Regions from separate parts of the Homo sapiens genome. Here regions 2, 3, 4 and 5 are each linked to region 1. The links come from fine-mapping of genetic effects on gene expression. A gene starts in region 1. Each other region holds a variant in brackets. All regions are shown on one strand. Distances are from middle to middle. Region 1 holds the start of CDKL1 (cyclin dependent kinase like 1). Region 2 overlaps CDKL1 (cyclin dependent kinase like 1). Region 3 overlaps CDKL1 (cyclin dependent kinase like 1). Region 4 has its middle 34 kb from the start of SAV1. Region 5 overlaps DMAC2L (distal membrane arm assembly component 2 like).

What was found. PIP is the estimated chance that this variant, and not a neighbour inherited with it, causes the effect. A credible set is the group of variants that fine-mapping cannot tell apart.
Region 2: its variant is the best candidate, but not a certain one, in a credible set for the expression of CDKL1 in whole blood (INTERVAL, PIP 0.50).
Region 3: its variant is the best candidate, but not a certain one, in a credible set for the expression of CDKL1 in whole blood (TOPMed, PIP 0.85).
Region 4: its variant is the best candidate, but not a certain one, in a credible set for the expression of CDKL1 in unexposed skin (GTEx, PIP 0.53).
Region 5: its variant is the best candidate, but not a certain one, in a credible set for the expression of CDKL1 in whole blood (INTERVAL, PIP 0.64).

The regions. Positions count from the first base shown.
Region 1 is chr14:50,393,480-50,399,406 of GRCh38, reverse strand. It overlaps CDKL1 (cyclin dependent kinase like 1), which reads left to right and starts at 2,526. Exons shown (of 10, transcript NM_004196.7): 1 at 2,526-2,583; 2 at 3,078-3,706. The coding sequence starts at 3,539. RefSeq lists silencers at 2,208-2,433, 2,373-2,822 and an enhancer at 2,115-2,614.
Region 2 is chr14:50,344,381-50,350,307 of GRCh38, reverse strand. CDKL1 (cyclin dependent kinase like 1) reads left to right here. Exons shown (of 10, transcript NM_004196.7): 4 at 5,250-5,322. Among named protein-coding and RNA genes, the nearest start is that of DMAC2L, 35 kb to the right of the region's middle. RefSeq lists an enhancer at 2,503-2,797. The variant C/T (reference allele first, on the strand shown) is at 3,050.
Region 3 is chr14:50,330,364-50,336,290 of GRCh38, reverse strand. It overlaps CDKL1 (cyclin dependent kinase like 1), which reads left to right. Exons shown (of 10, transcript NM_004196.7): 8 at 1,670-1,726; 9 at 3,859-4,029. Among named protein-coding and RNA genes, the nearest start is that of DMAC2L, 21 kb to the right of the region's middle. RefSeq lists an enhancer at 127-748. The variant C/G (reference allele first, on the strand shown) is at 3,883.
Region 4 is chr14:50,699,342-50,705,268 of GRCh38, reverse strand. It overlaps the pseudogene ZFP64P1. Among named protein-coding and RNA genes, the nearest start is that of SAV1, 34 kb to the right of the region's middle. The variant G/A (reference allele first, on the strand shown) is at 2,868.
Region 5 is chr14:50,323,388-50,329,314 of GRCh38, reverse strand. It overlaps DMAC2L (distal membrane arm assembly component 2 like), which reads right to left. Exons shown (of 6, transcript NM_001382507.1): 5 at 5,199-5,370; 6 at 1,358-3,706. The coding sequence ends at 3,592. CDKL1 (cyclin dependent kinase like 1) reads left to right here. Exons shown (of 10, transcript NM_004196.7): 10 at 1-3,050. Among named protein-coding and RNA genes, the nearest start is that of DMAC2L, 14 kb to the right of the region's middle. The variant A/T (reference allele first, on the strand shown) is at 2,649.

The DNA.
Region 1 (5,927 bases):
GGTCAGGAGTTCAAGACCAGCCTGGCCAACATGATGAAACCCTGTCTGTACTAAAAATACAAAAATTAGCTGGGCATGATGGTGCATGCCTGTAGTTCCAGCTACTTGGGAGGCTGAGGTGGGAGAATCGCTTGAACCTGGGAGGCGGAGGTTGCAGTGAGCCGAGATCACACTATTGCACTCTAGCCTGGGTGACAGAGTGAGACTCCATCTCAAAAAAAAAAAAAAAAAAAAAAATATTTTGAACTGAATGAAAATGATGATACAACATATTAAGATTTCTGTGATGTATTTAAAGTGGTGCTTACAGGAAAAATTATGGCATTAAATGCTTATATTAGAAGGCGGGGTGCAGTGGCTCATGCCTGTAATCCCAGCACTTTGGGAGGTTGAGGCAGGCAGATTATCTGAGCTCAGTAGTTGGAGACCAGCCTAGGCAATATGGTGAAACCCTGTCTCTACAAAAAACACAAAAATTAGCCAGGCGTGGTGGCACACCTACTTTGGAGGCTGAGGCAAGAGGATCGCCTGAGCCTGGGAGGCAGAGGTTGCAGTGAGCCAAGATCACACCACTGCACTCCAGCCTGGATGACAGAGCAAGACTGTCTCAAAAAAAAAAACAAAAAAAATTCTTCCAAACATTTAAGGAATTAATAATACCAATTTAATGTAAACATCTCTAGAAAATAAAAGGGAAGATAAACACTTCCCAACTCATTTTCTGAGATCAGCATTATCCTGATGCCAAAATTAGCAGATATTACAAGAAAACTATACATCAATATCTCTCAAAACATGAATGTAAAAATTTCCAATAAAATATTACTAATCAAATCCAGCAATACATTAAAATGATAAAATCATAAATAAGTTGGGTTTATCCCAGGAACAAAAGGTTGGTTCAACATCTAAAAATCAATATAATTCACCGTATCAACAGACTACATAAAAACAATTAGGTGGTGCACACCTATAATTCTAGCTACTCAGGCCTGGCAGAAGTGGGAGGATTGCTTAGGCCCAGGAGTTCAAGGGTACAGTGAGCAGTGATAACACTACTGCACTCCAGCCTGGGTGACAGAGCGAGACTCCCTCTCAATTAAAAAAAAAAAAGAAAAGAAAGGAAAAGGAAATGATCACCTCTAGATGAAGAAATGCATTTGATAAAATTCAACATCCATTCATAATTTTAAAAAGCAAACAAAAACACTAAGCAAACTAGGAATGAAAGTGAACTTTCTCAACCTCCTATTAATAAAAGGCTTCTGTGTTAGATACATATGGTTGCATAACAAATTACCCCAAAACATAATAGCAAACATATTTCAGTTTCTAGAGGTCAGGAACCCAAGTATGGCTTAGCTGGGTGCCCCTGGCTCAAGGTCTCTCACAAGATTGAACTTACATTGTCATCTGGGGCTACAATCTCATCTGAAAGCTCACTGGAGTTGGGGTGGTGGGGGAGATCCTCTATCCTCAAAAGGCTACATACGGTCTGATTCCATTTTCATGACATTCTGGAAAAGGCAAAACTATAGAGACAGAAAACAGATCAATGGTTGCCATTTGCAAACAATTTCTGTTCACAGACCACCTCTAGGCCATCCTTGTACTGGGTTTCCAGGGCAGCCACCAGCCCTCTCTCCTCAGCTCCAGGCTCCTTTCTGAACCCTTCCTGGGTTTACATTTAGTAGCATGCTGCTTGACACGGGATTGGCCCCTGTTTCATAGACACTGTGTTAATTTTCTCTCCTCGGGTACTGCTTCCAGGACAAGTACCCGCATTGATGCTGGCACTGGGAACGGGACGGATGATAAAGTGTGAGGCACTCTGCCCAGTGGCAACTGACATGATTTCATAATTTCCCCAGGTCCATCCGCTTCCCGCCAGTGTGCTCAGATTTGAGCAGTAGGAGTCCGTTGGGAGAAAGATGGGGGAAAGGAACCAAAAACAATTAAGGCAGACTCTGTAAGCTTCCACCTCCCACACCAGAAAAGTCCCACAGCAGAAGACTGCCGTGGAACCTTCCCTACTGTAGAGGAAAGTGCTGACTTTAAGCAATTTCTGCAGTCACGCCTTCCTCTTCTTTCCTTTCTCCCTCTCATTCATTCACTGACGCCGCAGCACTGATCAGCACAGACACAGAAGATGCCTCCAAGGGACCAAAGGGAATAACCGCGGTTCTGAGGTGTGGGGACTGCTGTTGCAGGGAAATGTGGACCGCTCAGGAGGGGCTCCTAGCGCAGGCGTCTTGCTCCGCAGACGCGGTTACAGCTGCGCTTTGCACGGCCTGCGGAAGTTTGCAAATCTAGCAGGTCTGCTCTCCCGGCAGCAGGACTCGGCCCGCGGTCAGGACAGCTCCCATGGACGGAGGGCGGCCCTCCGAGGCCTTTCCCTGCAGCCGGGAGGGCGGCCGGGCTGGGCCGGGCCGGGGGTGGGAAGCTGGGGCGCGGCGGCCCCGCCCAGGCAGACCCGGGGCGGGAGCCGGTTCCCATAGGGATCGCGGGCCGAGCCACGCCGAGCCGAGCTGGGCGGAAGAAGGCGAGGCGGGAGCCAGGCCCGTCCCTGACCGCCGCGGCGCCGTGAGTCCCGGGCGGGCAAGGAGGCGCGGGCCGTCCCTGGCCAACACGTGGCACCGCTCCATGCTGCGCGGCGCGGCTGAGGTGCACGTCCGGGCGCGGGAGGGTTTTCCCAGTCCCGGGGGCGTGGGGCGCGGGGCGCGGGTTGGTCTCCTGCGGCCAAGCCTCGCCGCCGCCTCCGCGGGGAGCCGGGAGGTGTCTTCTTGCCGCAGGGAAATGAGACCCGAAATTAGAACCGGGGAAGCCCTTAGCCCTCCCCGTACTCCAGCCAGCTCAGGTGTCTTAGATCGGATGAACGATAACGTTAAAAAGATAGCTTATCTTACAGCTCGGCTCGTTTTAGGATGGCAAGTTACATTTTAACTTACAGGGTATTTAACGGGCGATTAAAATCGGGTTACTGGAGGCAGCTAACTCTAGGCTGTTACTCCTGATCGCGTTGCCATTGCCGACACGGGTACACTCTTCATTCCTTAACATGTGCTGTTCTGTTCTAGGACCGTGACAAACACTCATCGTTGGGTGGGGCTCTAGTGCAGTCCGTTGGTGCCAATATTTTATAAGCGACGTTTTCAAACTATGTGAAGATCCTTTCTTTTCTTTTCTTTCTTTCTTTTTTTTTTTTTTTTTTTTTTTTTTTTGAGACGGAATCTCGCTCTGTCGCCCGGGCTGGAGTGCAGTGGCGCGATCTCGGCTCACTGCAACCTGCGCCTCCCAGGTTCACGCGATTCTCCTGCCTCAGTCTCCTGAGTTGCTGGGACTACGGGCGCCCATCACCACACCCGGCTAATTTTTTGTATCTTTAGTAGAGACGGAGTTTCAGTATGTTGGCCAGACTGGTCTCGAACTCCTGACCTCAGGTGATCTGCCCGCCTCAGCCTCCCAAAGTGCTGGGATTACAGGCGTGAGCCACCATTCTCGGCTGAAGATCCATTTTAAGAAGATTTATTCCTCTATGATGGAGAAGTATGAAAAAATTGGGAAAATTGGAGAAGGATCCTATGGAGTTGTTTTCAAATGTAGAAACAGGGACACGGGTCAGATTGTGGCCATCAAGAAGTTTCTGGAATCAGAAGATGACCCTGTCATAAAGAAAATTGCCCTTCGGGAAATCCGAATGCTCAAGGTAATTGATTCACTTTTCCTTTTTTTTCTTTTTCGAGACAGGGTTTCACTCTGTCTCCCAGGCTGGAGTGCAGCCATGTGATCATAGCTCACAGCAGCCTGGAACTCCTGGGCTCAAGCCATGCTTCTGCCTCAGCCTCCTGAGTAGCTGGGATTACAGGTTCTAGCCACTGCTCCGGGATCCACTTTTTCTTTAAAGTGAATTTTTAGGGATGAAAGAAATAAAGTGAGTCATGTTATGTTAAAAGAATGTCATGGGACATGGTTATATCTTACTTCATAGCCTTTTGACTTCAGTGACACAAATGGGATATCTGTGCACAAGTCACTAATTATATAATGAACTAGAAAGCAGAGACAAAAGTGCCAGGTAAGGTGGCATTCACTTTTAGAGATGCTGTGGGATATTTATTTTTCTTCCCCATAATTTCTCTCCCACCTGTAGACCTGGGTTTTCAAGGACCATTACAATTTGATAGTATAGGAATGTAAGACAATTCAATTTTGCTGGCATTGTTGATTTTTAAACTTCTAAGGTATTTCCTATTGGTATACTCAGTCTATTAAGAGAATTAACATTTACCTGTTTTCAAACTGCTAGGAAGCTCACAGATTCTCATTACACCTCATATGTATTTACTGCTGAGCATCATCATGTCCCGTTTCTAAAAAGAAGCGTTTTTCTTAAAGAAGTGAAATGATCACTTTCTAATTTTTTTTAACATTTTTTAGAGATGGGATCTTGCTATGTTGGCCAGGCTGGTCTCGAGTTCCTGGCCTTAAGTGATCCTTCCACCTTGGCCTCCTAAAGTGGTGGGATTACAGGCATGATCCATCGAGCCTGGCCTGATCACTTTTCAAATGTTTATTAGTTAACCCTAAAAATAACATGATATCAGAGGGGGGAAAGGTATTTATTACAAGCTGAAAGTGTGTTTTTCGCTAATGGAGAGACTACTTTACAGAACTTCTGTGAAGGTAAAATCCAAATCGCAATGTGAAAGGTGACATGTAATGAATATGGTGGAGGTCAACTTTGTTTCAGTTATGGCCTCTCTGTTCTGACCTGTATAACTACTATGTGACAAGGGAAGAGCTACTTGATGAGAGACAGATGAATGAAACTTCCAGGGGATTTACTATTATTCTTGCTTCTCCATTTTCTCCAGATCACTCTACAAATCTTGTGCCCATGGATAAGTGTGTGGGGTCACTTCTAGATAAGGAACCTAAATGGAAAGTAGCAAGCTTTGGATAAATTGGAATGGGTGGGTAACAGGGCAACTTCTCTATTTAGGTTTGGAATGTTCTTAACCAACAGGATATTATCTATTGAGAGGAGATGCTTCCAAAGCCCCGCAGGGGAGTGCTCCCATGGGCAGGGGTGAGACCTGCAGTGTTTTGACCATCCCCCTGCCCGGGTCACCCTACCCTTACCCTCTCTGTACACAGGGAGAGGCTGTTGGGCATTTTCACTTCCTCAGGCTTTCCCAGGGGAGGAGGTGATCATTACATTTCAAAGGGTTCATTTACCTGAAAGAAAATCTGTTTCTTGCAGAAAGATACTCTTTTTCTGATTCTGAAGATTACTTTTGTGAATGCTCCTTTCAAATCTCTCACTACACTTTATCAATACTACATTAACAGTGATAGCTCCCCAAATTCATTGAGTTCTTCTGGGATGGAGACCTTGCCTCTGTAGCTCTATATCCCCAAAGCACACTAGTTGGCACATCTAGGCCTCCAAAAAATGTCATTGTTGGATTGGAAAAAAAAGTTAACAAAATAAACTCTTAACAAAGGTGGATGTTGCCAATAAATGGGGAAGTCAAATGTGTTCTCTTATCTGAATATTGATATCCTCCAAAGGATGGGGTTGTGTACACATGAGCCTGATTTCAAAGCATGCAGCACCCCACTCTCCAAATTAAGTGCACAGATGTAGACACCACTGATCTCTATGAAATGGTGGGACTAGATTATAGGTAGAGTCTGTTCTTTAAAGCTGTAACTTTTCAGAGTTGTGTGATATTCCTAACACATAATACGTACTAGGCTGGGCATGGTGGTGCGTGCCTGTGGTCCTAGCTACTAAGGAAAGAGGCCAAGGCAAGAGGATGGCTTAAGCCCAGCAGTTCAAGGCTATGGTGAGCTATGATTAGGCCACTGTATTCTATCTAGCCTGGGTGACAGTGAGACCCTGTCACTTATAAAATAAAGAT
Region 2 (5,927 bases), 49 kb after region 1:
CCACTATTTACCACCAATGTGGAAACAAATATCTTAAGGTGGAATGAGTTCCCTAGCCTTGCTAGCACGGGCTACAATTTTAAGAACATCTTCCTTAGGCCAGGCATAGTGGCTCATGTCTATAATCCCAGTGTTTTGGGAGGCCAAGGCAGGAGAATCACTTGAACCCAGGAGTTCATGACCAGCCTGGGCAACACAGCAAGACCCCCATTTCTGCAAAAAAAGTATTGGCCAAGCACGGTGGCTCACACCTGTAATCCCAGCACTTTGGGAGGCCAAGGCAGGCAGATTACCTGAGGTCAGGCGTTCGAGCCCAGCCTGGCCAACCATGGCCAACGTGGCGAAACCCCATCTCTACTAAAAATACAAAAATTAGCTGGGTGTGGTGGTGTGTGCCTGTAATCCCAGCTACTTGGGCGGCTGAGGCAGGAGAATTGCTTGAACCCAGAAGGAGAAAGTTGCAGTGAGCCAAGATAGCACCACTGCACTCCAGCCTGGGTGACAGAGGGAGACAACGTCTCAAAAAAACAAAACAAAAAACAAACAACAACAACAACAACAACAAAAAGACAAGAGAGAAGAACAAAGAACATCAAAACATCTGCCTTAGCCTGAAGGGTCCAGCCAGTCACCCAGACTCTTCCAGAGCTGTTAAGTTTGTTGAATATATTCATATTTATTTAAGATTGCATGAGGCAGAGGGCATGGCGATGATACCCCTTACTGTGCATGGCTCTTGGGTCACACTGTCCTGTCAGGATGGGTTGCTTTTGCCACCTGGAGTGCAGTTATCCCGTCATCTCCCTCTGCCATCCTCCCAGAAACTCCTGCTGCTTCCCTCCTGCATTGGGTCTCCAGCCCACATAATCTTCTTTGATAATGGACTGCTCCTTTCTGGTGGACTGCATCCATGAGGGGCTTCCTGAGAAAGAGCAGATGAGAGGTACAGGAACAAATAAGAGGTTGAGACCTTGCCCTCACATGCTTTATTCTATCCTCACACTGGTTTGGTATTTTGTTTGGATATAGGCTTGTTTATTGGTTTTTGGTTGAAGATAATATTCCTTCAAATTTTTGAAGTCATTATTTTAGTGTCTTCTATCTTCTAGTGCCAAGAAGCCTGATGCCATTCTATTTTCTGCTCTCTTGTGAAGTCCTGTTTCTTTTTCCAGAAACTTGTAGGAGATTCTCTTTGTGCTCAGTGTTTTTGATTATGAAACTCATGAGTGTGTCTTGATTTTCATCCATTATCCTGGCACTTGCTGGGCCTTTTCTGCCTCAGAAAAAAATTTTTGAATTGTTTTGTTATTGACTTCCTGTTCATTGTTTTACCTATTTTCTTTTTCTGTACCCTCTATTATTGGGATGTGGACTCTTGAACTGGTCCTCCCATTTTCTTGTAGTATCCTGTTCTTATTTCATGGATACAACAGCTTTCCTGTTCTCTCTGAGGATATTAATGGTATTTAAAAATGTTCTCTTCATCCTCCATAATTTCTGTTTCTTTTAAGTTGCTTTTTTCTGTTTGTTCTGGTCTTCTACTTTCTTATTAGAGGCTTTTCTTGGGCATCATATAGTCTCTGGTTATATGCTCATAGTTAAGAACAAGGAACTACTGGAAGCTCTGAGCTTCACTATGGTTTTCTAGCTGGGCCATTTGCTGGTGGAACCCCAGTGTCAGAATCTTCAGAGCTTTCCCTCTGAGCTTCTCCCAAAAAAGTCTTTGAATATTGTGCCTGGAGAGTGAAGTCTGCCTGCCGGGTTTCCCAGAGTCTAGTGAGGGAAGAGGGGTGGGGAATCCCAGCATTCAGCATTTTGTATGTGTACAGTCCTTTAATCCCCTGTTTTCAGAACAGTATCCACATTTTCAGAACGGTATCCACAATCTCACGTATGCCAAATGTCCTCTGCTTTATCCTTTCCAGAAACAAAGCTCCAGCCTTCTGCCCAGTAGTGGAGAGTGTTTCCCTATGGGCAAATGATAGAGGAGGGGATCTAGGGATTTAATTATTTTCTAAACAGTTTTTTCCATACTCCTTAGCTCCTAGTTCCATAGAGACTTTGGCTGCTACTTCCCGAGCCTTTTGAGGATTCTTTCTGGATGAATTGGTTGGTTCTCCACCTTCCCTCTCCTGGCTTAGATTTTCGCTTTCTAGGATTGTTAAGTTAATTATCTTTCATTCAGTTGCTTTCTGGATTCCACATTGTGTTGCTGTTATCTCTTCTCCTGTCCTCTCTGACCTTGTGAGGTTTTGTCTTTAGAAGTCTTCAGCGTAGTTCTAGTCAGGTTTCAGGAGGGAACAAAATTAGCTGGGCTTGCTTAATCCATCATCTTAATTCAGAAGTCCTTTGACACACTTTCTTCAGTTGGTCCTGTGATACTGTATTCTCCTGAGTGTTGTCTTATTCACTTGATGCTCTCAACTCAGGTGCCCTTGTGGGGTCCCCTTCCTCTTTCTGCTCCTCTGTGGGGAAGGGTCTCACAGCTTCCTTCCGAGCTCCTCTTCTTTAGCTGGATTCACTCCTTAATTGGCTTCATTCAGTCCTAGGCCCCAAATACCACCCATATGCTATGCTTCTCAAACTCATATTTCCAGCCTGACCTTCCTTCTGAATGTAGAATTGCTGACTCACAGTCTTCCTTTGGGTGTCCAGTAAGCATTCCCTTCCCCCAAACCAGTTTCCCCTCCAGTGTTCTCCTGAGTAAAAGGCACCACTGTGTACCAGTTACTCAAGCTAAAAACCTGATGTCATTCCTTGATTCTTCTCTTTCTCCCACATCCAATCCCTCAGAAAATCCTGGAAGCTCTATTTTAAAAATATAGCCCAAATCTGGCCACTTCTCACCACTTAACCACTATTTTAGATGTTCCCTTAACCAGAGAACCTTTCTGGGCCATCCTATATAAGGTGATCAACCCCTTCTAGCACAGCACTCTCACGCTGTCTCTCTCTCTCTCTCTCTAAATCCAACACCACAGAATATATTCTATCTATTTTTCCCCTTTTTATAGTTGTAACTCCCTTCTCCAACAGTGAAAAACTGGCC[C/T]CTCTTATTATGAGTGTTTCAGCTAAAAGGGATCTCAGAGTCTGAGGCCTCTGCATTACAGAAAAGAAACTGAGTAAAGAAGTGAAGTGAGTAGCCAGTTCAAGATGGCACTAAGTAGTTTGTACAGAGTTTTTACATTTGAGAGTTTTGTAATTCTGGGGATTAGCTGTGCTGGGGATTAAAGGAGCAATAATGATATGCAACTATAATTTACTTTTATATGCTCCTTTTATATAATTTATTTGGGGAAATGTTTGTAGGAACTAAAGTTGCCTGGTACTGGTAACCCTATATTAATACTTAATTTGCAGGCCGGGCATGGTGGTTCACACCTGTAATCCCAGCACTTTGGGAGGCTGAGGTGGGCGTATCACTTGAGGTCTGGGGTTTGAGACCAGCCTGGTCAACATGGTGAAACTCTGTCTCTACTAAAAATACAAAAATTAGCTGAGTGTGGTGGCACACACCTGTAATCCCAGCTACTGGAGGCTGAGGCAGGAGAATCGCTTGAACCTGGGAGGCAGAGTTTGCAGTGAGCTGAGATTGTACCACTGCACTTTAGCCTGGGTGACAGAGCAAGACTCCATCTCAAAAAAAAAAAAAAAACCAAAAATTTAATTTATTGAATAATCAAAATATATTCCATTTTTCTGGACAAAATGTAGAGGCTACTGGGAAGGCTGAGGCAGGAGGATCCCTTAAGTCCAGGAGTCCAAAGTTCAGTGAGCTATGATAGCACCACTGCCTCCAGCCTGGGCAGCACAGCAAGACCCTGACCCTAAAAAAAAAAAATTAAAAGTGGAGGCTGGGGAAAAGCATTCCCCCTAATGTCTCATCTTAGTTGCATTTTTCTAAGCCTTTTTTCTCGACAGTGACTTTTTCTAGCATCTATGCCTATATGCCGCTCAAACAAGGAAAAGAGAATTTGGAGAGAAGCAACTTCAAACACAGGGACATAGACCTGGTCCAGCAATGTCCCAACTAGCCTTCCTGGAAGTGGCCTCTTCCTTTCCTTCATGTGATCCCACTCTCTGTTCAAACACCCCCTGATCTGCTTGAAAGGATTTCCTGAACGTCTGGCCTGTGACAACAGTGGCCTTGTAGCCTCTCTCAGAGGCTACAAGTGACTTTTTGTAGTCCCCTTAACACAGCTACTCAAGAGCTTCCTCCCTGATTTACTTATTCGTTTTGGCTGAGGACCACAGCAACACTGTGGAATGTTTATCAAAACAGTAAGTCCAGCCAGTGGGTTGGGGTCTCAGAAAATAAATGCACTCTCTCTGTGGTTCGTTTCTTACACTCCCTGCCTTGGTTTGTTGTTGTTTTAAATGTTTCCAGGCGAGATGCCTCTTTCTAATTCACACAAAGTACCTGCTGGAACTACTGGTTGCCCTGGTAATAAAAGATGTGAGTCAGGGAAGAAGTACTGGGAGCAGTGGCTTGAAGTTTAGCTGTGGTGATGGAGGAGAGAGTAGAAAGATGTACCTGGGCTGCAGCTGGCTGCCATGGCAGCATAGGGAAAGAACCAGGATGCCTCAGGTTTTTAAATTATTATTAACATTTAATAACAATTTACGATGGGGGAGCAAGAGAGACTGCATCAAGACCCTGGTAGGGCAGATCTGGGATGCTAAAAAACAAATAGAATGGTTTGCAATGTAAAGCTCTTTGCTATAATCAGTAAAGTCTTCATTATCTAAAAAACCAAACAAACAACAGCAATGCTGCTCTGAGAGACCACATGCCCACACATGGAAGATGAGTCCTGCTTCAAGGCTGTCTGTTTGGGGCAACTTGAGAAAATAAACAGCATCTTTTGTGCTGAATAGTAACTTAACTTTACATCAATAAAAAATTCCTTGTGAAAATGGAGCTTAAGTTACCAGGCAGTTTCCCAGTGGTGTCACAGATGTTTGAGATAGGTGGTTATAAATACTTGTTGAAATCCCTGTAGGTTTTCATGTCCTTACCAAAGAAGTAGATGTTTGCATTTTTGTTAACCTGTTCTCCCTAGACTTCAGCGGTGTGCTGGTCGCATATTTTTACATTTTGGATTCATGGAATGATTGATGAGTAAGATGACTATGTGTCACCTAAGATTTTTCACTACTAAAGCCTATCTTCGTTTATTTTTTCTTTTCTTGAGCTGAATTCCATGGCTACACTAAAGAATGTGTTTGTGCTGCTTTATTTTTATTAGGGTACCAGAACATCTCGTGAAGAGCATAACTTGGCAGACACTGCAAGCTGTAAATTTTTGCCATAAACACAATGTAAGTCTCATGATCTCTTTTGAAAAGCAACAAGGCTCCCCTTAAGCTGAGGTGGAGCCTTGTACAAAGTTTATGTCACACTTCTGTGGGTAAAATTTTTTACCCAAATCTTCATAAGCCTGGTTGGGTAAGTATAGGCTAAAAATGCCAACCTAGCTATTCCTTCTTGCTCAGGTTATATAAAACATGCATTTTTATGATTTTAAGAAACTAGTGCCAGGCATGGTGGCTCCTGCATGTAATCCCAGGACTTTGGGAGGCCAAGGTAGGCAGATCACTTGAGCCCAGGAGTTCAAGACCAGCCTGGACAACATGGCAAAACCCTGTCTCTACAGAAAATAAAAAAAAATGAACTGGGTGCGGTGGTGTGTGCCTGTGGTCCTGGCTACTCAGGAGGCTGAGGTGGAAGGATCACTTGAGCTGGGGAGGTCGAGGCTGCAGTGAGTCAAGATCATGCCACTGTACTCCAACCTGGATGACAGAATGAGACCCTGTCTCAAAAAAAAAAAAAAAAAAACCACAAAGAACAAAAAATTAGTCATACATTTATACTGCTTAGAAACTACTCAGATTTAAGGTAGAACCCCATTCACTTGGAGTCTATG
Region 3 (5,927 bases), 63 kb after region 1:
GATTTCCTGTTGACAGAAACACAGGAAGAGGCAGTGCGGGGGCTGCACTGGTTGAACATCTGTGCCCCAGTCCCTCTGCCTGTCAGTAACCCTGACAGAGGGAGGCCTGCTTGCTTCTGGGGCTGTGAAACGCTCACAGATGGGCTCCAGCGTATCACAGGCAACCAGTTGGCCTCATCCAGACATTGTTGCTGAGACAGCAGAGCTCGATGATATAGCAATGGCACGTCAAACCCCAGTGATGCTCAGATTCAACCGACAGAAAGAACAAGAGAAATATTTAAGCTATGGAGCATGAGTGGAAGTATGAGGGTGCAACAGGGGCTACTGTCAAGGGCTAATACAAACCTACTTTAGGATTTTTTTTTTCTCCTGTTGACATAGGGAACTCTGAAACAGAGGCTCTTCTCTCCTACTCTTATCAATGATTAGTATGTGTACAATCCAGAATTGGTTATTGGGAGCTGGTTGCCTGTCCAAAATAATACTGTACTGTGAAAGCTGGCCACAGCACCAGGACTGTTTGATTAGATGAGCCTGGCCAGTCACTCCAGTCGGCAGCTCACACACTGCCACTTTTATACACACAATGCACTGCAGTCACTTATTTTGCTCAGCTTGGCTGGCTCTTATTTTCTCAGCCTCTCTGCTCAATTAGCCTTTGTCAGTGGTATGTCTCTTTAACTGGCCTGTTTGTCTGCCTGACATTCGGCATTCCTCCCATTTATAGTGTTATTCCTGATTGTCTCCAGCACGTGACTGGCGCAAAATCGCCTTATACGGCCAAAAGGAGATTGACGAATGCCCCACAGGAGACTGTTTAAACAGCAGGCTGAGAAGGGAAGCAGCAGGCCCTAGTGGGAGGAGACAACAGTGTTTATTCCAGAAAATCAAGAAGCATCTGTTCACCTGGGTAGGGGAAAAACATCTATTTTGCAGCTCCCTTTATATAATTAGAATTAGAGCTGCCTTTTTTTTTTTTTTTTTTTTTTTTTGAGACAGGGTCTTGCTCTGTCGCCCATGCTGGAGTGCAGTGGCACATTTATGGCTTACTGCAGCCTCAATCTCCCAAACCCACGCCATCCTCCCGCCTTAGCCTCCCAAGTAGCTAGTACTAGAGGCGCACACCACCACCCCCAGCTAGTTTTTTGGTATTTTTTTTAGAGAGACAGACAGGGTTTCATCATGTTGCCCAGGCTGGTCTCAAATTCCTGGGCTCAAGCCATCAGACTTGGCCTGAGTGGATTATAGGCATGAGCCACCGCACCCAGCCAGCTACCTTTTTATAAATCACACTATAAATGCCAAAAATTATTCTCAGGAAAGGCAAGTTATATAACTTGAGCCCCCCCACCCCCTCAAAAAAAAAACTGCTCAGAAAAGTTTTTTTTCATTAGTATTTTTATTTATAATTTGCTATCTCCATTGGTATCAGAGCAGGAAGTTAAGGGAGTAGTTACGAAGCAAATTTGGAAAAGCGATTTGGAGGTGGGGAGAGAAAGCTTGTGAAAAAGGCAAAGGGAGACTGTTTTGGGCAGGAGGTTGGGTGGGCAAAGGGTGGAGGACGTGAGGAAGGTGCCAGGAAAATGTTTCTATCAAAAGATTTAATTTGAGGTAACCTTAATTTGAATACATGCTGTAAATTAAAAACCTCTTTTCTTTTCAACAGGAACCACTTGAATTAAAATTCCCAAACATCTCTTATCCTGCCCTGGGGCTCCTAAAGGTAAAAATCATGGCTTCCAACAGACCAGGAAGCACACAGCAGTTGTCATCACTGGGGAATCTGAATTACTTATGTCAATCCATGCAATGAAAAGTGTTCCTTTTAGAATTCTTCTCCTGGCTGGGCAGTGGCTCACACCTGTAATCCTAGCACTTTGGGAGGCCAAGGCAGGCAGATCACCTGAGGTCAGTTCAAAACCAGCCTGGTCAACATGGTGAAACCGTCTCTACTAAAAATAAAAAAAATTAGGCGTGGTGGCGCTCGCCTGTAATCCCGACTACTCAGGAGGGTGAGGCGGGAGAATTGCTTGAGCCTGGGAGGCGGAGGTTGCAGTGAGTTGAGATTGCACGACTGCACTCCAGCTTGGGTGACAGAGTAAGACTCCGTCTCAAAAAAAAAAAAAATTCTCCTTGGAAAAGTATATTTTCAATTTTTTTAAATGGATCACATCCTATTAAGAAAACATTTGCAAGTATTTTCCACTTTAAATAAACCTAACATTATATTTGAAGTCTAAATTTACACAAAACAGAAATTTCAGGGGGGTGGTGATTGTTTTACAAAGGGAACTTTTTCTTCAGAAAATCCTTAGCTGCAGGATCCTTTTAAATAGCTAACTCCCTGGTACATTTGAAGTACATTTAAAAACTTGATATATATATTTATATATATATATATTTAGAAATATAGCTCTTATGTAAAATGAGGTATGGTATCAACTAAAATGTTTGCAAGTTACAGTCAATGTCCCACATGGTTTAAAAATTATTTATTTACTGATGTATTAAATAATGAGTTAATATAAATGATAATGTAACTGTTACCTGAAAGGGGTCCCAATCCGGACCCCAAAGGAAGGTTCTTGGACCTCATGCAAGAAAGAATTCAGGGCGTGTCCACACAGTAAAGTGGAAGCAAATTTATTAACAAAGTAAAGGAATAAAAGAATGGCTACTCTATAGGCAGCAGTGCTGTGGGCTGCTCAACTGAGTATACTTACAGTTATTTCTTGATTATATGCTAAACAAGGGGTGGTTTATGAGTTTTCCAGGAGAGGGCAGGGATTTTCTGGAACTGAGGGTTCCTCCCCTTTTTAGACTATTTAGGGTAACTTCTGGGCATTGCTATGGGTATTTGTAGACTGTCATGGTGCTGGTGAAAGTGTCTTTTAGCATGCTAACACATTATAATTAGTGTACAACGAGGAGTGAGGACAACCAGACATCACTTTCATCACCATCTTGGTTTTGGCCGGCTTCTTTACTGCATCCTGTTTTATCATCAGGTCATTGTGACCTATATTTTGTGCCGACCTGCTATCTCATCCTGTGAGTAACAATGCCAAACCTCCTGGGAATGCAGCCCAGTAGGTCTCAGCCTTATTTTACCCAGCCCCTATTCAAGATGGTGTTGCTGTGGTTTCAACACCTCTGACATAACCAACAAAAACTGAGTCAATTCCTTGGAGTATGTAGTTGTGAAATTTAATCTAATCTATCCAAGAATGAGCTCCATGGCCTACTTAGTTGCAACAAAAATAGTTAAGAATGATGTAATATAAAGGCATGTACGTTATGCCTCTCCTTATATACATGATCATATATACTTATAATGCATCAACTATTTCTGGAGGGATACACCAAAAAAAAAAAAAAAAAAAAGTAGCTGATTTTAGAAGGGTGAAGGGAACACCTACAGTGGTGGAGACTTTGCTGTATGCTGTATTAACTGTATTTGTTATCATGTGTAAATATCATTTTTAAAATAAAAACACTAGTTTTTACAAAGTACATGCAAGGGACCAAACTGGCTAAATGGATTACCCCATTTGGCCACTGAGGTAAACTCTAAAATTATATCTTACTCTCCCAGGGCAGAGTACCAATTGCTTCAAGAACAGAATAAGGTGGAGAAAATGATTTTTCATTACTACTTCTAGAAACTATTTATTTAATATGTGAGTGCCATTTAGGAATGACTGGAAGGAACTAAAATCATGACTGGTGTGTTTTCCTGCCTTTTCCCCCTTCTTATTGCAACTGAAGTTTCATCTTTCAAAGAAGAAAAAAATGACATTAATAAGTTAATACAATTTTGAAGAAGTAAGAAGAAGGAATTTTCTGTTCTTTTAGGGCTGTCTCCACATGGACCCTACT[C/G]AAAGGCTGACATGTGAACAGCTGTTGCATCACCCATATTTTGAAAACATCAGAGAAATAGAGGATTTGGCAAAAGAACACAACAAACCAACAAGGAAGACCCTAAGAAAGAGCCGAAAGCACCACTGCTTTACAGAAACATCCAAGGTTATAATTTGAAATGATCTCCTACCTGCCACCTGGTACAGAGAGTTGGAATCTAGACTTGAGGATGGCAGTTGTGGCTTTCAGCTCCAGCATCCTCATTCCAGCACTAGGAGACAGGTCATAGGATCTATCAACCAGGGCCCCAGGGACATCTGTCTCCTGAAGCCCCCTCTCCCTGAATCCTAAAGGTGCCCTTGTCCTGCTGCTTCCTGATGCCACACAGGGGCCAGGGTTTCCAGCCTGCATGAGCACAGGTCTCAACAAGGTACATGAGTATGAGTCCAGCTAAGGAGACTTTTTGGGCTTTGGAAAATGAAATCAGATTTTCCCCATGCAGTTCTGTGTCATCATGTACACTTTTAGTATTAAAACTAACACTCCAGGTTTGTCCAAAAAAGGAGCTGTTTTCCTCCCTGATCCTTTGTCAGAGTTGGCTAGGGCAAATACAGTGATGAGTGCTTTTGGTGGTATCAGCTGAATACATTTAACCAGAGAACAGCATCCAAACTGCACACTGGGAGACTGTGAAGAATCCTGATTGGTATAAAATGGCCTTACATTAAGCATCTTGTGATAAGCCAAAAGCTGTAATAATTTAGAATGAACTGTAGTTGGAACCACAACTGATCCTGGGTAACCTCAGGATCTACCTAGGTACTCCTTAAGCTATACATTATCTTGCCTTAGTCTTTCTCTTTGCAGCTTCCACTGCCCAGCATGCTGAATGGTACCAGGGTGTGTTGTGTATGAGGCTGGGAGGAGGGAAAAGGGTGAAAAAGGTCCATGAGGAACAAGTACAGCATGAACTCCAGGGCCCTAATGTAGATCACAGTTACAAAATTAATGTTTTATTCTCCATCATATGTGACCCAGGTAGCACAACAGGCCAGAAACAGACTCCTCCACCCCCACGCCAGAATTATTCCTTATCTCAGTATTAGTTTGTATTCGAGAGCAAAAGGTTTTGATGGAAATATTTCTATTTGAAAAAATAGGGAAACTCCACTATTTGGTGTATTGATTTTTTTTGAGACTGAGTCTCACTCTGTCGCTCAGGCTAGAGTGCAGTGGTATGATCTTGGCTCACTGCAACCTCTGCCTCCCAGGTTCAAGTGAGTCTCCTGCCTCAGCCTCCCCAGTAGCTGGGATTACAGGCATGTGCCAGTATGCCTAACTAATTTCTATATTTTTAGTAGAGACAGGGTTTCGCCATGTTGGCAGGCTGGTCTCGACTCCTGACCTCAGGTGATCCATCCGCCTTGGCCTCCCAAAGTGCTGGGATTACAGGCATGAGCCACCGCACCTGGCCTGGTGTACTGCTTTTAAATCCTGAAAGAATCAACTGATTTAAAAGTACTAAAAAGCACTTTTCTGAGGACAATGGCTGAAAAATTTTTTTCTAGAAAGTAAAAGTACTAAACAGTTCCCTTTTTAGGGATACCGAAGGACATATAGTGCAATACAAAAAATACAGGTGTGTTCTTTCATTTGACATTGACAATAAATTCAAACATTTTCAGGAAGCTTGAAGGAAGCAGTTTGTCTTTTTTCTTTAGAGATGGGGATCTTGCTATGTTGCCCAGGCTGCTCTCCTGGGCTCAAGGGATGCTCCCACTCAGCCTCCCTTGTAGCTGGAACTACAAGTGTACACTGTGCCATGCTTGATTTGCCTTTTTAACTAAGGGAAGAGAGTGAGTAGGCAAATTGCCTAGGTGCTCTGTTTATCAGTTTTCTCCGCTATAAGACAAGGCATTGGCTTAAATGATCCCTAAGATCTCAGCAAGCTCTCAACTCCTGTAAATCTATGTTTTCTTCCCAATAATGTTAACATGTAGATTTTCCCCTTTTCATATTCTCTAAATCTTCTTTAATGTGAATGTTTTTCCTTTTTAATATAA
Region 4 (5,927 bases), 310 kb before region 1:
TGTGACAAGTGCTTCAGCGGAAGGACAACCTGACCATGCACATGTGATGCCGCACGAGTGTTACCTGTGTGACTATGCTGCCGTGGACAGCAGGAGCCTCAAGAAGCACCTACGGATCCACTCGGACGAGCAGCCATACAAATGCCAGCTCTGCCCCTATGTCAGCCGCAACTCCAGCCAGCTCACCGTCCACCTGCGATCCCACACTGGGGATATCTCCTTCCAGTGCTGGCTCTGTAGCGCCAAGTTCAAAATCAGCTCAGACTTGAAAAGGCACATGATCGTGCACTGGGGGAGAAGCCTTTCGAGTGCGAGTTCTGCAGCGACGTCCGCTGCACCATGAAGGCGAATCTCAAATCGCACATCCGCATCAAGCACACCTTCAAGTGTCTGCACTGTGCCTTCCAGGGCCAGGATGGGCTGACTTCCTGGAGCATAGCTGGCTGCACCAGGCCGACCACCCAGAGAAGTGTCCTGAGTGCAACTCCTGCTCCAGCGCAGCCGCCCTGTGCATACACAGCGGAGTCCACTGTAAGGACTGAAACTTCAAGTGTGACTTCTGCAGCTCCGACGCGAAGTGGCCCAGCAGCCTGGCCAAGCGCATCGACAGGGTGCACAAGGATGAGGCCAAGACAGAGAACTGGGCCTCTCCGGGCAAGGAAGGGCTCACAGAGCAGCTCCCGACACGTGGCCAAGATCGTGAGGCAGAGGGCCTTTCGCTGTGAGACCTGCGGCGCCGCCTTTGTCAGGGATGACTCTGAGATGCCACAAGCAGCAGCACAGTGATCAGAGTGAGAACAAGGACTCAGACTTGGTCGCCTTCCCACCTGCAAGCTGTGCCTCGGGACAGCTCAGCACCATGGTCTCCGTGGGGCAGCTCAAGCCTCCCCTGGAGCCCAGCCAAGACCTCTAGCTCAGAGGAAAAGGATCCTCAGCTGTCAAGATTTCTGACAAATGCTGTTGCCCACCCCTCCAAAAGATGAAGCCAGTGAGACAGGCTTTGGGCACCACTTCCAGGGCTGGCTGCTCCAATTTCACAGGCCTCCAGAGGCGATGGCTGAGATGACAATGATAAAAGCAAAGCAGTACTATGGAGACACTTCTTGCATTTGTGTCTTCCCTCCCAGGACAATCTGAGCAAGTCAACTTAGTCATTCAAACGTAGGGTCTGCTGAGCCCTGCTCTATCCAATGCGGATAGCTTCTATGTAACAGATTCCAATTTTTAAACTGATCCATCTCTGATGGAATTATTAAACTAGTTAGATGATATAGAAAACTAAAACTAATCTCTATAGTGGGACAGGTTAAAGTGAAGAAGGTGTACATGAAGAGTCTGGGATTGCTGGAAAACTTCTATTTCATAACCTGGATGATCGTTCTAAGAGTGTTTGCCTTATATGTTTGTGTGGTTTCTTCTACCTGTTGTCTTGCAATAAAAAGGCAGACTCATAGGTTAAAACAAAATCAAAAACAAAAAAACTCATGTGATTAGACTGGACCCACCTGGACAACCTAGGCTTCATCTAAATATCCATCTAAGTTTCCTTAACCTGAATCATGTCTGCAAAATCCCTTTTGTCAACTGAAATAACATACTCACAACTTCTAAAGATTCAGACATGGAAATCTTTGTGTGATATTTAATTTGCCTACCACAGATGTAGAAGAATTGAACATTGACAACAAACTTGTTATAAAACATTCCACTCAACAGCAGCAGCAGAATACACATTCTTTTTAAGAACACATGGAAAATTAACAAAGATCAGCCACGTTCGGGGGTATAAAACAAGTTTCAATACATTTTAAAGGATCCTAGGTGCTGGAGGTGGCCAAGATGGTTGACTAGAAGCAGGTAATATACGTAGCTCTCATGGAGAGGAACAGAAAGAGCAAGTAAATACAGCACCTTCAACTTAAACATCTAGTTACTCACATTGGGACTAATCAAGGAAGCAACTTGACCCATGGAGGATGGAGAAAAGTAAGGCAGGATGATGGCCCACCCAGGAGCAACATGGAGCCAAGGGAACCTCCCCCGACCCTGGGTAGTGGCACATGAATGTACAACCCCAGGAACCCATGCTTCTCCCATGGATCTTTGCAATCCTTGGGTCAGGAGATCTCCTTGTGAACCCACTCCACCAGGGCCTTCTGACTGACACACACAGCTACATGGAGTCTCAACAGAACAGCCACTCAGGCACATGTGGAGACCCAGGAAAGCCTTGATACTCGGACTCTCCAGACTTCCCAGCAAAAGTAGTTGCAACTCCAGCAAAGCGGGAGGTTTGACCTCTGTACATATCCTTAGGAAAAAGGCTGAATCCAGGGGGCTGAGCAGTGACAATCTGCAGGCCCCACTTCCACAAACCTCACAAGATGAAGACCCACTGGCTTAGAACTCCAGACAGCCACTGGTAGCAGCATTGCACCTCCCTGGGATAAAACTCCAGCAGGGAAGGGTGGGCTGCCATCTTTGCTGTTTGGGCAACTTAGCCGTTCCAGCCTCCAAGCTTTGGAGAGTCTAAGCTGACCAGGGGCGGAAGGGATGCCCCAGCACAGCTGCTTTATAAAACGTGGTCAGACTGCTCTTTTAAGCAGGTCCCCAATCCCTCCTCACTGGGCAGGATCACCAGAGCCTCCAGCCACCTGCGCCCATGTTCTCCAGCCAACAGAGATTTGGAGCCTCCCTGGGATGGAGCTCCCAGCGGGAGGGGTGGGCTGCTATCTTTGCTGTTTGGGTGATAGTATTTCTAGTCTTTAGGCTTTGGAGAGTCCAAGTCAACCTCTGACCAGGCAGAAGCAGTACCCCGGCACAGTACAGCTGCCCTGTGAAACATGGCCAGACTGCTTTTTTAAGCC[G/A]GTCCCCAATTCTGTTCCTCCTCACTGGGCAGGAATTCTCAACTGGGGCCTCCAGCCACCCCCACCAGTGCTGTCTGGCAAACACAGATTTGAAAACTTCCTGGGACAGAAATCCCAGAGGGAAGGGTGGGCCACCATCTTTACTGTTTGGGTAACTTAGCTATTCTAGCCTTTGGACTTTGGAGAGTCCAAGATGACCAGGGGCTGAAGTGGATCCCCAGCACAGCACAGCTGCCCTACCAAAACACAGCCAGACTGCTTTTTCAAGCAGGTCCCTGATCCTACTCCTGATCACCAGGAAGGGTCTGAAGCTATCCCCACGAGTGTTCTTCAGCTGAGAGAAGTTTCAAGCCTCCCCAGGCTGGAGCTCCCAGATGGAGGTGCAGGCCATCATCTTCGCTGTTTGGGTCACTTAGCTATTCTGGCCTTTGAGCTTTGGAGTGTCCGGCACTGAAGGAGACCCCCAGCACAGCACAACCGCTCTACCAAAATGTAGCCAGATTGCCTCTGAAACAGGGTTTCACTCCCATTGCCCAAACTGAGCAATGGCTCTATCTCAGCTCACTGCAACCTCTGCCTCTTGGGCTCAAGTGATTCTCCTGTCGTAGCCTCCCAAGTAGCTAAACTATAGACACACCACCATGCCTGTCTAATTTTTGCATTTTTTGTTGTAGAGGCGGGTTTCACCATGTTGCCTAGGCTGGTGTCAAACTCCTGGGCTCAAGTGATCTGCCTGCCTCAGCCTCCCAAAGTGCTGGGATTACAGACATGAGCCATTGTGTCCAGCCCAGACTACTTTAACTGAGTCTCAGATCCCATTCCTCCTCACTGGGAGCAATGTCCCAACCAGGGTCTCCAGCCACCTCCTACAGGTCTGCTTGGGCTGGCAACAGGTCCCTAATTCCCTGGAGCAGAACTTTCAGAGGGAAAGGCAGGCTACTATCTTTGCTATATTGCAGGCTTCACTGGTGATACATAATGGTAAAGGGTACAATTCAACAGGAAGACACAACTATCCTAAATATACATTCACTCAACACAGGAGCACCCAGATTCATAAAGCAAGTTATTAGAGACCTATAAAGAGACAGACTCCCACACAATTATAGTAGAAGACTTCAACACTCCACTGACAGTATTAGACAGATCAAGGCAGAAAATTAGTAAAGATATTCAGACCTTAACTCAACATTGGACCAAATGGATCTGATAGACCTCTACAGAACTCTCCACCCCAAAACACAATATACATTCTCCTCAAATTGACCACATAATTGGACATAAAACAATCCTCAGCAAAAGCAAAAGAACCAAAGTCATACCAAACACTTTTGGAACACAGTGCAATAAAAACACAAGACTAAGAATATCGCTCAAAACCATGCAATTTTATGGAAATGAAGCATGATCCTAAATGACTTTTGGGTAAATAATGAAATTAAGGCAGAAATCAAGAAGTCTTTGAAACTAATGAGAACAAAGATATAACATAACAGAATCTCTGGGTCACAGCTAAGGCAGTGTTAAGAGGGAAATTCACAGCACTAAATGCCCACATCAAAAAGTTAGAAACATCTCGGCTGGGCACAGTGGCTCATGCCTGTAATCACAGCGCTTCGGGAGGCTGAGGCAGGTGGATCACCTAAGATCAGGAGTTCCAGACCAGCCTTGCCAACATGGAGAAACCCTATCTCTACTAAAAATACGAAATTAGCTGGACGTGGTGGAACATGCCTGTAATCCCAGCTCCTCGGAAGGCTGAGGTAGGAGAATCACTTGAACCCCGGAGGTGGAGGTTGCGGTGAGCCGAGATCATGCTGTTTGCACTCCAGCCTGGGCAACAAGAACGAAACTCCGTCTCAAAAAAAAAAAAAAAGTTAGAAACATCTCAAATTTACAATCTAACATTACAACTGACAGAATAAGAGAAGAACAAATCAACCCCAAAGCTAGCAGGAGACAAGAAATAACCAAAATCAGAGCTGAACTGGAGGAAATCAAGATACCAAAAAAACATTCAAAAGATCAACTAATGAATCCAGGAGGCGGTTTTTTGAAAAGTTAGTAAGACAGATAGGCCACTTGCTATATTAATAAAGAAAAGAGAGAAGATCTGAATAAACACAATTAGAAATGATGAAGGGAATATTACCACTGACCCCACAGAAATAGAAATAACCATCAAACTACTATAAACACCTCTATGCACACAAACTAGAAAACCTGGAAGAGATGGATACATTCTTGGACACATACACCCTCCAAGACTGAACCAGGAAGAAACTGATTTCCTGAACAGACCGATCATGAGCTCTGAAATGGCATCAGTAATAGCCTACCAACCAAACAAAGCCCAGGACCTGATAGATTCATAGCTGAATTCTACTAGATGTAGAAAGAAGAGCTGGTACCATTCCTACAGAAACTATTTCAAAAAAATTCAGGAGGGGGTTCTCTTCCCCAACTCATTCTATGAGGCCAGCATCATCCTGATACCAAAACCAGGCAGAGATACAACAACAACAACAACAACAACAAAGAAAATTTCGGGCCAATATCCTTGATGAACATTGATGTAAAAATCCTCAATGAAATACTGGCAAACCAAATCCAGCAGCACATCCAAAAGCAAATACATCATAATCAGGTAGGCTCCATCCTCAGGATGCAAGTTTGGTTCAAAACACACAAATCAATAAATGTGATTCATCACATAAACAAAACCCACATGATTATCTCAATAGACACAGAAAAGGCTTTTGATAAAATTCAACACCACTTCATATTAAAAACTCAATAAACTAGGTATTCAAGGAACATACCTCAAAATAATAAGAGCCATCTATGAAAAACCCACAGCCAACATTATACCGAATGGGCAAAAGCTGGAAGCATTCCTCTTAAAAACCTGCACAAGGCAAGGATGCCCTCCTTCACCCCTCCTATTCAACATAGTATTGGAAGTCCTAGTCAGAGCAATCAGGCAATAGAAAGTAATAGAGGGCATCCAAATAGGAAGAGAGGAAGTCAAACTATCTCTGTTGCAGACAACATGATTCA
Region 5 (5,927 bases), 70 kb after region 1:
AAGGGTAGAGCAAGACCTACAGGCTTTGCAGGAACTGAACCTATCAGCCTGAAAATAATTAGTATTTCATTCTCTCTGGCACAGCCTTTGACCTGGTACATCTATAGGCAAACCTGTAATTCAGTGATCTGGGTTTCAGAAGAAATTACTTGTGAGCTTTTACTTGAGTCATGAAAGACATTATGTTGTAAACTGATGTTTTCCCTGAAACATCTTTTTGCACTATGTTTGTATGTGTATGTATGTGTATGTATATATATATATATATATATATATATGCTATTCTAACAACTAATATATTACACTAAGTAGTCCAAAGTATTGAGGACTCATAGCTTTGCACAGTGAGACTTAAAATGATGACACACACACACATATATATATATGTGTTTTTTATATATATATATAAAACCTGCCACCTCAGCCTCCCAAGTAGCTGGGACTGCAGGCATGTGCCACTATACTGGCTAATTTTTTTGTATTTTTTGGTAGAGGCAGGGTTTTGCCATGTTCCCCAGGCTGGTCTTGAACTCCTGGGCTCACGTGATCTGAGCGCCTTGGCCTTCCAAAGTGCTGGCATTACAGGCATGAGCCACTGCGCCTGGCCAAAATGACATAATTAGCTTTGATTTGGTCTACTGCTCTTAATCAAAAAGCTTTTTCATCCTTGTCCCCTGGACACAAGGGCAATATGAAGCCTGACGTCTGTTTCTTACAGCTCAACACCATTTCTGGTTGATGTGCTGCCACTATTCCTAGCACTTCTCAGCCATGGTCTTCAAAGTTGTATTTCACTCTATTTTCAAAACATTTCTTCTGTACTCTCATTTTCTTCCTGTTAATTTTCTTCATGATGACATCTGACCCCATTTACTTAAGTAATCCACTGAGGTCTGGTGTCTACTCAATAATTTTGACTACCCTAGGCAGTTTAATGATATCCTAAGGCTTCCTAATGTATGTCTTTTCTTGCCTAGACCTGATATGGGTTAAATGCTAGTCCCTGAATTATTCAATTCCTGTTAGACGGCCTTGATTCAAATGACAAGGAAGAACATCCAGCTTCCGTGAATAGTTAAAAAAAAATTTTTTTTTCCTTAACCCAAGAAAATACACTTGACGGAGGCAGATTACTATAACAGCCTAATAATTCAGCCAATAGTTTTACCAAAAACTATTCAGAATAGAAAAGTAGCTCTAGACTAAATCGTGGTGAATCAGTTGTCTCACCATACAGTAATGAAACAAACCTGAGAAAAAAGGCTTATTTTTTTCTAATGAGTTCCGTTAAATTTATGCTTATGTTCAATTTAACCATATTTATAATGCTTTTATTCGGTATGAAATCTCCACTGTATCACATGAGACTCTTCCACATCCTTTTATTTACTATTTTCTGATTTTTAAAATGACAGTGGCAATTACCATTTATACTGTGTTATTTGTATAAGCTGTTAAACACAACATTGTTAAACACAACGAAAATTCATTTTTCTACCTGAAAGCTGTATCATAGAAAATTATTTTCAAGTTTATATTCAACAGCTTAATAATGTTCAAACCAGGCTGGGCGCGGTGGCTCCCAGCACTTTGGGAGGCCGAGGCGGGTGGATCCTGAGGTTAGGAGTTCAAGACCAGTCTGGCCAAGATGGTGAAACCCTGTCTCTACTAAAAGTACAAAAATTAGCTGGGCGTGGTGGTGGGCGCCTGTAATCCCAGCTACCTGGGACGCTGCGACAGAGAACTGCTTGAACCCGGGAGGCAGAGGTTGCAGTGAACTGAGATCACACCACTGCACTCCAACCTGGGCAACAGAGTGAGAGTCTGTCTCAAAAAAAAAAAAAAAAAAAAAAAAGTTCAAATCAAACACACAGAAATCTATAAACAAACTGGCATATAAGAGTAATAGAATCAGGGCCATTTCTCACAGGTAACAATGAAGACCTGTTTTATCTATTTTTCACTTTTTTTTTTTTTTTTGAGACAGGGTCTTAATCTGTTGCCCAGGCTGGAGTGCAGTGGTGCCAACATGGCTCACTGCAGCCTCGACTTCCCGGGCTCAACTGATCCTCCTACCTCAGACTCCTGAGTAGTTGGGACTACAGGCATGTGCCACTACACCCAGCTATTTTTTATTTTTTAATTTTTTGGTAGAGACAGGGTTTTGCCATGTTGCCCAGGCTCGTCCTGAACTCCTGGGCTCAAATGATCTGCCTGCCTTGGCCTTCAAAAGTGCTGGGATTACAGGCCAGCCCTTTTTTTTAAGAGACAGGGTCTCCCCCTTTCACCCAGGCTACCAGGCTGGTGTGCAGTGGCCGTGATCATAGCTTACTGCAGCCTCAAACTCCTGAGCTCAAGCAATCCTACCACCTCAACCTCCCAAGTATCTGAGATTACAGGTATGCACCACCATGCCTGCCTAATTTTTAAAATTTTTTTAGAGATGGGGTCTCACTGTGTTGCCCAAATTGGTCTCAAACTCCTGGTCTCAAGTGATCCTCCCACCTCAGCCTCCCAAAGCACTGGGATTACAGGCACGAGCCACGGCACCCAGCCTAAAGCAATGTTAGGTTTCAAGAAAAACCTAAGCATAGCCCACTAGTTTTTACTGTTTCCTTTATTATATTGCAATCTGCAAAACTATTTGT[A/T]TTCAGCCAAGTATCTATGTCCAGTTTTAATAAAATAGTAGCCTAAGCTTACAAAATAGACAAATTAAGCAGCAACTGTTGATTCTGAGTAAGTCTGTATGCTATCAAGAACACAAGAATGCAGGATCATGGGAAATGCACGCAAATCCTGTTGAAGCAATGCATGCTTCAACAACCACTGACCACTTTGCATAATTGACTCCATCAATGAATCTGTAATTTAGCTTCTAATTTTTCATAATTGTGCATTTATGGTAGTATGCTTCACTAACTTTAAAGTTAAATGTAAATTACTGTTATAATAAAAACATCTGTTGTACAAATAACTTTAAAGGATTCTAAATATCTACATCAAGAGATATCTATAGATTTACATATTAAATGAATATATTAGAATTAAAATGTTACCTAGTTTACATTTTTCTTTTTTTTTTTTTTTTGAGACAGTCTCGCTCTGTCACCCAGGCTGGAGTGCAGTGGCACAATCTCGGGTCCCTGCAACCTCCACCTCCCAAGTCAAGTGATTCTCCTGCCTCAGCCTCCAGAGTAGCTGGGATTAAAGGCGTGCACCACCACATTCAGCTAATTTTGTTTTTTTAGTAGAGATGGGGTTTCACCATGTTGGCCATGGTTGGTCTTGAACTCCTGACCTCAGGTGATCTGCCCGCTTTGGCCTCCCAAAGTGCTAGGATTACAGGCATGAGCCACTGCGCCTGGCTGCACTTTTCTTAAAATGAATTAATGTTCATAAATTCTCACTTCCAACTTAGTAACATTAATGAGCCACGTCTGAATATTTATTTTCTACATATGATGCACTCTCCACTTCTAAAATGTCATGATATGGCATCCTTATAATTCTACTGATGACTATATAATATTAGTTGATGTTTGGAATCAACAGTTTCAAATGATCCTTTATACTGAAATAAGACACATTATTTTACTTCAATTGTAATTTTAGTTCCAGAGAAGGCAGTGCTGTCTTAAAGGCTTGGACAAGATTTTCTTTTTCTCTTACTCCAGGAAGATCACTTAACAACAAATATTTGAGGTTTCTGCAAATAAAGAAAAAAGTCACTTCAATTTGGCCAAGAGCATTAAAAATAAATTCAATTTACTGACTTAAAGAAAGAAAATTATGTAGAAAATGAATCTATATCACCCTATGCCTTCAAAATTACTTTTAGAGCAGTAGCCTTAGAGATGAAATTCATGCCAGGAAGTAACACAGACTTTGGGTTACATCAATATTTCTAGCTGAATCATTCTAAATAAAATATATATTTATAATGATGTAGATATTCTTTGCATGTGAAACATGAAATGTGAATCTCAACCCCAAAAGGGCAAAAGCTGGGAAAATTCTTAGATACTAGAGTTTCTACTAAAAGATGAAGCTTTGAAGCTTCAAGTAATGTAAGAGATGAACAATCTAGTACTTTTGGTCCTAATGTTTAAAATTTCTTAAACTTCCTGTGATACTGAGGTTACTGGCAGATCCATTATATATTAAAGCAGAACTACATTAATTAGATACATAATTTGAATGTTGAGATCTCTAACACAGGGATTTGATTAAACAAACTTCTAGGCCGGGCACGGTGGCTCACGCCTGTAATCCCAGCACTTTGGGAGGCCGAGGCGGGCGGATCATGAGTTCAGGAGTTCGAGACCAGCTTGGCCAACATGGCGAAACCCCATCTCTACTGAAAATACAAACATTAGCCGGGCGTGGTGGTGCACGCCTTTAATCCCAGCTACTCAGGAGGCTGAGGCAGGAGAATCGCTTGAACCCAGGAAGCGGAAGTTGTAGTGAGCCAAGATCATGCCACTGCACTCCAACCTGGGCAACAAAAGCAAGACTCCGTCTCAAAAAAACAAACAAACAAAAAAACTTCTATTCTTTTTTCATCACGCCGATGAGACTCAGAATCTTACAAATTTTAGAATTAAACATTCCTTGCTAGTATTATCTGTTTTTGCATTTGGGATTAGGTGACTTGCTCCAGGCCATGGCGTGGGTCTGGTTGGTGGCACAAGAGGATGTAGAACAGCTTTCCTAACCAGTGGATGCATGCTTTTGATGATTATTACAGTGTCAGGCAGTGTTCTAGGCTCTAGAGACAGAAAGGTGAATATTTCAAGGTTTTTCTCCCCTCAAGCAAAATAATTACACAGTAAAATGCTAATAGGTATATACCAAATGTCTTGAAAATATTAAAACCATAGGAGAAACTGCTTTAAAAAAAAAGGAGAGAAAGCATAATCGTTGATGCTTACTGAGGGCTTACTGTGGCAGGCACCATGCTAGGTGCTTAATGTAGATTTAATTTTTTAAAATATACTCTATAAAAAATTCAATACAACATTAATGTATTAAGGTTGATCATTTTAGCTGTTTTAAAATATTACAGATGAAAGTGAGGTCATTTTTTAAAATTATCTTTTTTAGAACTAAAAAAAGACACCACCCCTCACAGTCAATTAAATTCTAACTATTCACCTTAACAGCATTATCAAGTTTCCACTTTGGCTTTGATCATCTACCTTAAATGACGCAAAGCAATGATGCCTTTGTCTGTGATATTCCCACAGGATATTATTTCCATTTCCAATATGGTTTTTTGTAAATTTTCAAGTTGACTAAGTCTCAGCAAACAGTCATCCTCGATATAATGACACTTGCACAGCCTTATTTTTTCAACATGCTCTAGGCCCTCTGGGGAGAAAAAGTACAGATTAAGAATCTGCTTTACCACTAAGATGACAAACTGTCCTGGTTTGCCCACGACTGACTTGGTTTTAGGACTGAAAGTCCTATGTCCTGGGAAACCTCTTAGTTCCATGAAAACTGGAATGACTGCTCACCCTATTAACCATATAAGGAATTCACTATAGAGCTTGTGCTGATGGACAGGACCATTCCGCAGTCAGATGCCCACACACTGGAGGAAAGAAATGCCCACATAGGGCCAGGCCCAGTGGCTCACACCTGTAATCCCAGCACTTTGGGAGGCTGAGGCGGGTGGATCACCTGAGGTCGGGAATTCAAGACCAGCCTGGTCAACACGGCAAAACCTTGTCTCTACTAAAAATAGAAAAATTACCCTGGCGTGGTAGTGCACACCTGTAGTCCCAGCTACTTGGGAGGCTGAGGCAGGAGAATCACTTGAACCCAGGAGGTAGAGGTTGCAGTGAGCCAAGATCACGCCACTGCACTCTAGCCTTGGTGACAGAGTGAGACTCTGTCTCAAAAAAAAAAAAAAAAAAAAAGAG